Regions from separate parts of the Homo sapiens genome. Here region 2 is linked to region 1. The links come from fine-mapping of genetic effects on gene expression. A gene starts in region 1. The other region holds a variant in brackets. All regions are shown on one strand. Distances are between the middles of the regions. Region 1 holds the start of TTC7B (tetratricopeptide repeat domain 7B). Region 2 overlaps TTC7B (tetratricopeptide repeat domain 7B).

Evidence for each region.
Region 2: its variant is fine-mapped to the expression of TTC7B in testis (GTEx, PIP 0.92).

What each region holds. Positions count from the first base shown.
Region 1 is chr14:90,813,434-90,818,744 of GRCh38, reverse strand. It overlaps TTC7B (tetratricopeptide repeat domain 7B), which reads left to right and starts at 2,315. Exons shown (of 20, transcript NM_001010854.2): 1 at 2,315-2,570. The coding sequence starts at 2,450. RefSeq lists a silencer at 2,142-2,321.
Region 2 is chr14:90,532,982-90,538,347 of GRCh38, reverse strand. TTC7B (tetratricopeptide repeat domain 7B) reads left to right here. Exons shown (of 20, transcript NM_001010854.2): 20 at 1-5,366. Among named protein-coding and RNA genes, the nearest start is that of LINC00642, 80 kb to the right of the region's middle. RefSeq lists enhancers at 3,812-4,642, 4,677-5,177. The variant C/T (reference allele first, on the strand shown) is at 2,495.

The sequences.
Region 1 (5,311 bases):
TCCTGCTCCCTCTTGGTGGGAGCTAAGGGCCAGGGCACTAAAGGGTCCCCTGTTGAAACTCTAACGTTCTAGTTCCCCTTTCCCTGGGCTGTTCACAGTGTCCAGGGCCTGTCAGCTCAACTTCCATCACCTTGGCAGTCCCTGAGGCACCTGAAAGTGATACTGGTCACATCAGAACACATCTCCTTATCTTTCCTCCTCACCTCTCTTAAATGTCTGTGATTCAGCCTCCTCATTGGTAAACTGAGGTCCACAGTGTGTGTTCTTCATCAACTCCGGTGGTGGGGGAGTTGTGGTGGGGATAAGAACCTGCGTGTGACTGCTCTTGGAAAGTTGGAGTAAGGGCACCCAGAAGGAATGACGACGACCCCTCAGTGCCTCCTTGTGACTGCGGGCGGGCTACGGAACCTTCCAGACTGACCGCTTCACTCTCAAATGCAGGACCCAGAATCCAACACTGCCACCACCACAGCTATTTCCCTGGCAGTATTCTCAACACTGCAGTCACAGTGATAGTCCAAAGTGTAGGTCTGATCATGCCACTCTTCCGTGAAAAGCCCTGCAGGGCTGCTCCATGTCACCAGAGTAAAAGTCAAAGTTTTTTTTTTTTTTTTTGAGACGGAGTCTCTCTCTGTTGCCCAGGCTGGAGTGCAGTGCTGCCATCTCAGCTCACTGCAAACTCCGCCTCCCGGGTTCACACCATTCTCCTGCCTCAGCCTCCCCAGCAGCTGGGACTACAGGCGCCTGCCACCACGCCCGGCTAATTTTTAAAAATATTTTTAGTAGAGACGGGTTTCACCATGTTAGCTAGGACGGTCTCGATCTTCTGACCTCGTGATCCGCCCACCTCGGCCTCCCAAAGTGCTGGGATTACAGGCGTGAGCCACCGTGCCCAGCCAAAAGCCAAGGTCTTATAATGGCCCACCAGGCACTACACAGAACTCCCCCCAACCTCTCAGAGTTCATCTCCTGCCTCGGCCCCTCTCCTTCGCTCCACCCAGCCCCTCTGGCCTCTGCCATTTCTCCATCCCACCCAGTGTGCTCTAACCCCAGAGCCTTCGCACTTGTGGTGTTCTCTGCCTGGGATACTCCTCCCCCAGAGATATCCTCATGGCTCCCCCTTAGTTTCTTCAAGTCTAATGCCACCTCCGTGAGGCCATCCCTGACTGCTCCATTTTAAATGGCAACACTTGCTCAGGCTGAAGTGCGTTCACTGCTCACTGCAGCCTCCACCTTCTGGGCTCAAGCAATCATCCTGCCTCAGCCTCCTGAGTAGCTGGGATTACAGGCATGAGCCACCCGCCTGTCCCAACTCTTTATGTTCCTCACTGAACCCTTCCCTGTTTCTTCAAATAGCCATTTTTACAGTCTAGTTTACTATTTTATTTTGCTTATTTTTCCCCCAAACTGGAATGTAAGCTCTCTCAAGCCAGGAATTTTGTTTTTTTAGCTCACAATTCTATCTCTGGCACCTAAAGCAGCGCCCAGCACATAGTAGGTGATCACTAGACAGTTGATTCACTGAGAGAACACAGAGGGACACCTCCCTAGGTCTCAGTCTAGGTGGCCAAGACAGGAGGCCCCACCAGTGACTGTGCCTTCCCCTCAGGGGGTCCGAGAGCTGGCGTGTGAGAGTGGCAGCCCCTGCCTGGCTCCGCTCAGCCATCTAGGGCACCCCTGGCAGGTGCTGTGCCTTGCCTGGGATGGAGGAGTCTCCGTCCACCTCTGGCTGGGTAGGGGCTAAGGCTGCGGGGCAGAGGGGCATCTGCTAAGGGGCACAGGCCAACCGGGCCCCAGGGAACCGCTGGCCACCTGAGATGGCAGGACAAACTCGGGCAGGCCTCCCCCCACCCCTCACACCTGGCTCACTGGTCCCACCGGGCGGTGACCTTCCCCAGGGTCACTGCCCTTTCTTGGCCCTACTCCTGGGGATCCAACCCGCTCCCAGGCTGTCGCTAGCTCCCTCCCGATCCTCTCCCTCCCCTTCATCCTGCCCAGACCCCTACCCCACCAGACCCCTCACCCGCCCTTGGTCAGATCTCTCTCCTACCCCGCTCCCCCACCCCCATCCCCACTTCCCCTCGGTCTTCACCCCGCCCCAGACACCCCCAGTCCCTCTCCCTGTCCTCCATGCCCACCCCGCCTTTCCTCCCTCGGGCCCCTGTCTCCCGCCCTAGCCCCCGCCCCTGCCCCAGCCCTGGCTCCGGCCCCGGTCAGTGCTGCGGCTCCGGCCCTGGCCGGCAGGGGCCGCTCCTCGCGGCGCCCGGGGCCCCGCCGCGCCCGCCGCCGCCGCCCGCCTCCCCGCCCCTTCCCCAGCCGGCGCTCCCGTTACGCCGCGGAGCCGGGAGCCGGAGCCCGAGCCCGCGGCGGCGGCGGGAGGCGGCGAGGGGGCGCCGCGGCGGCGGCGGTGGGGCCTGCGGGGCGGGCGGCCGGGCCCGGCCAGGCCGCGATGGCGACCAAGAAGGCAGGCTCGCGGCTGGAGACGGAGATCGAGCGCTGCCGCTCCGAGTGCCAGTGGGAGCGGATCCCTGAGCTCGTCAAGCAGCTGTCGGCCAAGCTCATCGCCAACGGTACGCTCCGGGCGCGCCGGCCTGGGCTGCGGGGGGCGCCGCGGCCTCCGCGGGAACGGGCCCCCGAGGCGCGGCCGGGCGCGGGGCGCGGGCAGGGGCGCGGCCGGGCCGCGAGGGAGCTGCGGCCCAGGGGATGTGCGCGGGACCGGGGCCTGGGGGAGCCCGGGTGCCCCGGAGTCACGCGGTGTGGGGGCCCGGGGGGGCGCCAGGGGCTGTCCCGGCGCCTGGGGTTCAAGCGTGCAGGGCGGGCTTCTGCGGAGTCTGGGGTGTCCGGGGGTCTCAGCGAGTCCGCTGCTCCACTGGGACCACAGGAGGTCAGGGGCCGGCCTGGGGCTTCCAAGAAGTTGGAGGTGATGGGGTGAGGGGGTCCCTCAGGACATGGGTGAAGTCCACAGTGTGTGTATGGTGTGCTCAGGGAATCAGGATGTGTTTATGGGGTCTTGAGAATGGGGTGTTGTACATAGACCCCTGGGGAATCTGGTTTGTAAACATATGGTGTTTAAGGGGTTCTGGGTGGAAGCGCAGACTCGAGGTGTGTGGGGTGGTGGTAGAAAGCAGGCTGGGATGTGCGTCCTGGCGTTCGGAGAAGTAGCATCAAGGCTGCCGACCTAGAGAGGTCAGGGTTGGGAATAGAGGAGAAATAGAGTCAGGGGGACCTGGAGGGAGAATATTGTGGAGCGAGATGGGAATGTGGTTGAAGAATGTCGGGAGATGGAGTTGGGTGGGTGAGGGGTTGGTGCCTGGGCCAGAAGGGGGTCTGAGGCAGCCTCTGAGTAGGAGCCTGGTGCCTGGAGTTGGTTCATGACCCCTTTAACTGGATTGGTTCTTGTACCCAATCAAATAAAATTGCATCCAGAATCCCATTCCAGTGCACAGCTCCACGTGGCCTTATTTGTTTTGGAAGCGAGTATCTTTAATATTTGCTTGTCTTTTAGTACCCGCCTAAAGCGCAGGCACCAGCACACCGTGGCCAGAGGGCAGAGGGTTTGTCTCATTTCATCCTGGGCTTCCCCAGGCCCAGTGAGCACATGTTGGCTGAACAAATGAATGAAAGAGTGAATGAATGGATGGCGGGGCTGCTCTAAGAAAGGACATCTGCACTATTTTCAACCTTCTCACTTCAGACTACCCAGAAAGGAGAGGGATGTCAGGTGTCCTCCTGGAGGGTGGTTTATGTTTGTGTCCTATGGTATTAGTGCCTGGAAATTAGAACTTGGTTTTGCGCACTCTCAATGATGGATGCATGCTGTGGGCAGGTACCTTCTGGGTGAACGCAGGTGCCATGGTGTGTCAGGGGCATGGAGATAGCACCGACCCTACACGGGCTCCACTTGGTGGAAAATGTGGACCCTTCTCAGTTATGTCAGCCTTTGAGGAGATGGTGTTCAGTGCCCTGGGCCCCAGAGGCAGCTTGCCTTTGCCCTCCGTGTCGGGCTCACCTGCTTCTCCGCTTACCTGCAGCATTTTCTCTTTTCCTCTCGGAGTTGCACAGTCCTGGGTCTACTTTGTGGCTTCCCAGCGGTGTAGGCATAATGACACCTTCTGTGCAGGTTGATTTTAGGATTAAATGGGTTTATTTGTGAGCCTCCTGGTCTTTTTTCTTCTGAATCCACTTGTTTCCTGCTGTCTTTGCTTATTCATTCACCCAATATTTGCGTGCCCACCTGTGCCAGTCACAGAACAGTGGTGAACAGCACTGACCAAGCCCCTGCCCTTATGCCCTCACCCTGCTCTCAGGAGGCAGGTGATAAGCAAATATGGAAATAAATAAACAGCACAGCTTCAGATAGTGAGAAGTGATTGAAACAAAACAGATGAGTTAATGTGATTGAGAATGACAGGCAGATGAAGGGGGACTCAAGCTATGATGGTCCCTGGAATGAGAGGGTAGATGGGTTTTTGGTGGCCTGGGCCCTTCCTATTCACCTTCATGGCCCCCGAAAGGCTTAGCTCTCTTCCCAGGGGCTGCTCCCAATGTCCTAAGATGCAGTCATGAGTGGGGCTTGGGGATCGGGGTTTGCGGGGGCACTGTGGTCCATGGGTCTGTGTGCAAGTTCAGTTTGGGGAAACTCATGGGACATAGATTTTTGTCCTAGAGACTCACATGGTGAGTGGTAGCCATTGATGGCAAAAAGTTACCCGGACTTGAAAAGATCAGACAGAGTGAGTGCTCAGGAAAATAAAACGATGAAGCCAAGAAAAAGATGAAACTAAACTAGAATGATTGTGGCTCTCCTTTGGTGTTTGCAAGAGGGGCCTTCCCTCCGTTTGACTGGTGAGGCCTTCCCACTCTCGGGCTGGTAGAGGGACTTCTTCCTGGCTTTTGGGGGCACCGGCTCCCCCATAGATTCTCGGGTGCATGAGCACAAGTTCTGGGCAGATTTTGCAAAATCCTGAAGTTAAAGCATCTTCTGCTTAGAATAAGGAAAGCAAGTGAATGTCACGTTTGTCACACTAAGACAGTTACCATGAAAACAACCACAGGCGAAAAAAAAAAAAAAAGAATACAGTGTTTGGAGCCAGCCAGATGGGGGACTGATTCTTGTGACCTTGGCCACTTCTTGACTTTGTGACATTGGCCAAATCACTTAACCACTCTGAGCCTCAGTTTTCTCATTTTAGAACGGGATTTAAATGACTTACCTTGCAGGGGTTGTTATGAGGGTTAAAGTAGCTAATGTCTCTCAGGGCCAGCCACTCATTCCTTCCTTCCTTCCACAAAGATTGAGTACCTGCTCTGT
Region 2 (5,366 bases), 280 kb after region 1:
ACATTCATCCATCCGTCCATCCATCCATCCATCCATTCATCCGTCCACCCGTCCGTCCGTCCGTCCATCCATCCATCCATCCATCCATCCATCCATCCATCCATCCGTCCATCCATTAATAGATGAGGACGCAGACGCTAGACACTAAGACGGCAGGACACCTGCCTGGGGTCATTGTGGAATTACCTGGCAGAACTAAGATTGAGACAGGCCTGAGGGATAAACATTTCAAAAGTGCCCAGGTCTGCCCAGTGGAGGCATTTTTTGGACAGTGAGATGCAGGAGATGCCGCGTTTGATTCCAGGACTAGTGCTGACCCTAACTTAGGCAAGGCGTTCCTGTTCCCTGGTCTTAGTCTCCCCATCTGTGAAATTTCATTCATTCATTCACTCATTCATTCATCCAACAAATATCTATGGAATGCTCACAACATGCCAGATGCTTATTCCAGGCACTGAGGGCACAGCAATGTGTGACACAGATGCTGCATCCACTTAGGACCTACCTTCTGGTAGAAGGAAACAGACAGATGAGGAGTATGGCAGGTGGGGTGACGCATGGAGAAAGATGAAGCCAGGGAAGGGGTGTAGGGAGTGGCAGGGCTGCTGTTTAGAAGGTGACTAGGGAAGCCTCGCTAAGAAGGTGACATCTGGCTGAAGAAAGACAGGTAACCTGGGAGGAGGACATCTCAGGAAGCAGGAACAGCAGGTGCAAAGGCCCAGAGGGGAGGGGGATGGTCAGGTGGTGAAGGATGAGAAGAGGTCAGAAGTTTAACAGGGGCCACACAGGTGCGGCCTCGTGGACCATGCTAACAGTGTATATTAATTGCCTGTGGTTGCAGCAAATTACCATAAACTGGCTGGGCATGGTGGCTCCTGCCTGTAATCCCAGCACTTAGGGAGGCTGAGGCAGGAGAATCAGCTGAGGCCAGGAGTTCAAGACCAGCCTGGGCAACATGGTGAGACCCCCCCCCCATCTCTACAAAAAAAAAAAAATAGCCAGGTTTGGTGGCGTGCACCTGTAGTCCCAGCTGCTTGGGAGGCTGAGATGGGCTGATTGCTTGAGCCCAGGTGGTTGAGGCTGCAGTGAGTGATCACGCCACCGCAGTCCAGCCTGCATGAGAGAGCAAGACCCTATCTCTACAAATAAAATAAATTAAAAATTTTAAATGACCGCAAACTTAGCGTCTTAACACAAATTTATTCTCTTTGTTTTGGAGGTCAGAAGTCAAATCAAGCTTTCAGTGGGGCTGTGCTCCTTCCCCAGGCTCTGGAGGAGGACGGGTGTCCCCGTCTTCTCCAGCGGCTAGAGGCTTCCTGCGGCCTTGGCTCGTGGCCACCTCACGTCACCTTTCCTTCCTCTGCTCCGTCACTGCGTCACCTTTCTGCCTTTGACCTCCTGCCTCCCTCTAAGGACTCTGCTGGTTGCTCTGGGCCCCCTGGATAGTCCAGGGCCATTGCCCCACCTCGAGAGCCTTCGTTCAATCACATCTGCATCGCTCCATCTGTCATGGAAGGCAACATAGTCACAGGTTCCAGGGCTCGGGATGTGGACGTCTTTGAGGGGCAGGGGGAGCACGTTATTCTGCAGGCCGCAGCGTGGGAGCTGGGAGGCTGTCAGGCTCCTGCTGTCACACAGCGACCATGGTGCTTAGACCAAGGGGCGTGGAGGAAGTGGCGAGAGGCACTGGACTGTGAAGATTCTGAAGACAGAGCCAAGAGGGTTGCTCACACATGGAGCTGGGTGTGAGGGAGGGGAGACGCCAGGGATGAGGGTGAGGGTCTTGTCCTGAGCTACTGGAAGGATGGCGATGATGGCCAGGAAACAGGAAGAATAGGTTGGGGAGGAGAGGAGAAGGCAGGAGTCTGCTTTCAGGCAGGTTGAATACAAAATGCCTGTGGAGCCTCTGAGGGGGAGGCAGCTGGCTGGGCAGGAGCCCAGGCGAGAGCCCAAGATGAGGCGAGAGTGTGGGAGGTGTCAGGGATGCGGGGCTGGGAGCCATGGGCCTGACGGGGCCACTTCGGGACAAGCATAGACAAAGAGGAAGAGGTCAGGGCTGAGCTCCGGGGCTGGCGGGGTTTACAGGCTGGGAAATGAAGAGATCAGGAAAGAAGGCGCAGGAGCAGCTGCAAGGGAGGCGGAGAGCAGGCAGGGTGAGCTTCCTGGAGGAGGTGGGTGGGCTCTCTCAATGCCTGGAGACCCCGTCAGGGTGGCCTGAGAGCTGACCGTGGGCCTGGTGGTGTGCAGGTTGGCAGTGACCTTGACCAGAGCCATGCTGGGGATGCAGTTTTGCTCCCCCAGATTCATAGGGTGGAGCCCCCGCCCCTGTGTGACTATATTTGGAGATAGGCCCCTTAAGGAAGTAATTCAGGTGAAGTGAGGTCATCAGGAGGGGCCCTGGCCCAGTAGGATTGGCGTCCTCACCAGAAGAAACTCTAAAGTGCAAGTGAGCTCACGCTCAGCCACGCCAGGACACACGGAGAAGGCGGCCACC[C/T]GCAAGCCAGGAGGGAGCCTCACAGGAACCCAGATGGGCTGGAACCTTTGCTTTGTTCTTTGAACCTCCAGGACTGTGAGAAATTAAGTTCATTGTTGAAGCCACCTGTCTGTGGCGGTTTTCTTACGGCAGCCCAAGCTGACTAAGGTGGGGTCAAGCCAGGTTGGAGTGGGCTCAAGGGGGAGGAAAAGGTGAAGTCTCTTTCAAGAGCGTAGCTGCAGAGGGGAGCTGAGAACACAGGTTAGGAGTCCGGTGGGGAAGGGGCCGTGTTGAGTGTTGAAGGCGGCCTCGCTGAGCACCTTGTGTTTCCAGCAGGGCAGGCGTGAGGAAGGAGAGAGGGAAGCTGAGGGGGGCTGCCTTGGCTGGGGGCCTGGTGGTTCCCCAGAGCAGCAGCAGCAGGGAGGCAGAGGCCTGGGTACCCCCAAGCCAGGGAGCCCTGGGGACGGGGCACCCACTCCTCAGTGAGCAGGGAGCCAACTTCGGGCAGGGTGGGGTGGCGAATGGACCAGGAAGGGAAGGAGGAGGCAGAGGAGGGAGGAGGCCCTTCTTTGAAGGAGCCGCCCCACTCAGCCAAGAGGATCTCAGGACAGAGCCAGGCTGGGGGCCTGGGCAGGTGTGGCCGGGGCAGGCCACTTCCCATCCCCAGCCCCATTTGGGATCCATGGGCTCGTCTGTCTGTCTCTCTGCCTCCTTCCAGGTCCTGGGCCCTGGGCTGTGGCCAGGGCTCTGCTCACCCTCAGGGCTGCGTGGGGACCTCCCTCGGTGGGGAAAGGAGGGAACCAAGGCCTCCCGTTATCCTCCATGCCCCCTACCTGTGGTCATGGCCTGGGGGAGGTGCATGCTCGTGCACAGGTGGGCGTGTCTGTGATCACATGGAGCAACCCAGACTCCTCCAGATGGCCCCACGCATCTCCCCGGCGGCCACACAGTCATCATTGCGGGCCCAGACTCTCTGCCTGCAGGAAGTCCCCCCTTTGCAGGCACCCTCCCCATCATCCTTGGAGTTCTCCACGTCTGCCCTGTCCGTGCTGGGCCTGTCACCAGCCTGTCACCTGCTGCCCCAGCCCCAGCCCAGGTCCCTGCAGCACAGCCGGCTCCAGGCTGGAATGGGTGACCCGGCCCTACTGAAGGAATTTCAGGGCAGGGTCAGCCACTCTGGCCACTGTCTCCCTCCAATGCCCCCATACCCTCCCAGCGCTCGGCCCCTGCCACTCGGCCCCCTCTCTCCATATCGCCACCTTCTCATTCCTGCTCCTCCCCCACCACCTCTCAAGGCCGACAGGGTGGGCATTGCCCAGTGAGGGGACACCACTCATATTGAAGTTCTGTAAACTGTGTCTTGGGCACTGTACCAGGTGGCTGCTCCCATCCCTCCCCTAGCGTCTGCTTGCCCTGTCCATCCTGCCTACTCCAGAAGCAGCCACACACTTGACCATAAGCCTTTGAGGCCTGGCCGGAGTCCTCCGGGGGAGGCGGGCAGTAGCAGCCGCACTGGGCCTGAGGACCCCACACAGGAAAATGGGCCGAGCCCCAGGGCTGAGCCTTAGGGCTGCGGCCGTTCCCGCCACTAACATTCCTCCCACACTTGTGGTCATGCATTTCCTGCTGCCCCTGCCCACGCTGCAGCCAGATAGGAACAGAAAAAGGACATCCTGCACCATTTCAGACAGGAATGTGCTCCTCCTGAAGGTCTTTTGGGGGCCAGGCTGAGGCCCCCCCTCAAGGTCACACCGTGGGGGACCCACTCCAGCTCTGCACCTGCTGGGGGTGATCCTCACTGTGCCACTGTCCCTCCCTGGACTCAGAATCAGATGAGGACAGTCACCTCTGCCCAGCCTGCCTTCTGGGCTGAGATGTGAGTCTGCAGGCAGCTGTCAGAGGTGGTGTGTGCCAGGTAGGGGACACGAGGGCTACCGCCCCTCAGGACCACCACACAGGGCCTCAGGGCCAGGCCAGCAGGCAGGACTCCTCCTGGACACTCAAGCCCTGAGTGGGGCTGACTATGGAGAGGTGGCAGGAAGGTGGTGGGGGATCTTCTGCAGGTCTGCCTGGAGCCAGCAGCTCCCGCTGACCATCCGGGCCACCCACAGCCCCCACCACCCTCCTCGTCTCCCTCATCTTCTGCTGTTTGGCCCTTGACCCCCTGAGGACAATAGGGTTTCCTGGTGACCACTGGGCTGTGGGTCACACAGATCTGGCTGGAATCCCAGTTCTGCCTGGCCGTGTCACCTCTGATGGGGAAGCACTCTGTCTCCTCATCTCTATGGTCGGGGAGTAACTTCCCTTACGGGCTTTTGGGGATATTAACAGAGGTCAACCTGGACAGGGCATGGGGCCCCCGGGGTGCACCATAAAGTCTTTCCTTCTTTCTTCTATCCTCAGGCGAGGGGTGAGTGGCTGCTGGGACGTGCTGAGGGGTCCCTGAAGCAGGGCAGGAAGGGCAGAGCTAGCTGCAGCTGAGGCAGAGTCCGAGTCCCGCTCTGCATGGAGGAGGAGGTGAGGGGCCTGGTCAGCATGGGCATGGCTGGGGGCCTCTGTGACCGCCACCACTCTTGTCTTTGCCTCCTTGACCCCACAGGGTCATCCTCGGGCCCTGGGTCCAGCCAAGGCCTGAGGAGGGTCATGCATCCCTGTCCCACTTGGTCACAGCACAGGAGGCTCCCATCCGCCACTGCCTGAGGCGGTGCCTGTGGCCCAAGGGCTCGGGTTGTGGGCCTGCTGGGCTGGAGCCTGCATCGGGACCTGGCCACCTACTCTCCTAGGAGCCTTAGGTGAGTCACTAGTCCTCTCTGAGCCTCGGTTTCCTCATCTGTGAAATGGGGAGAACAAGGTGGTTGTAAAGATTCAGAGGGTGTGTAAAACACAAGCACAT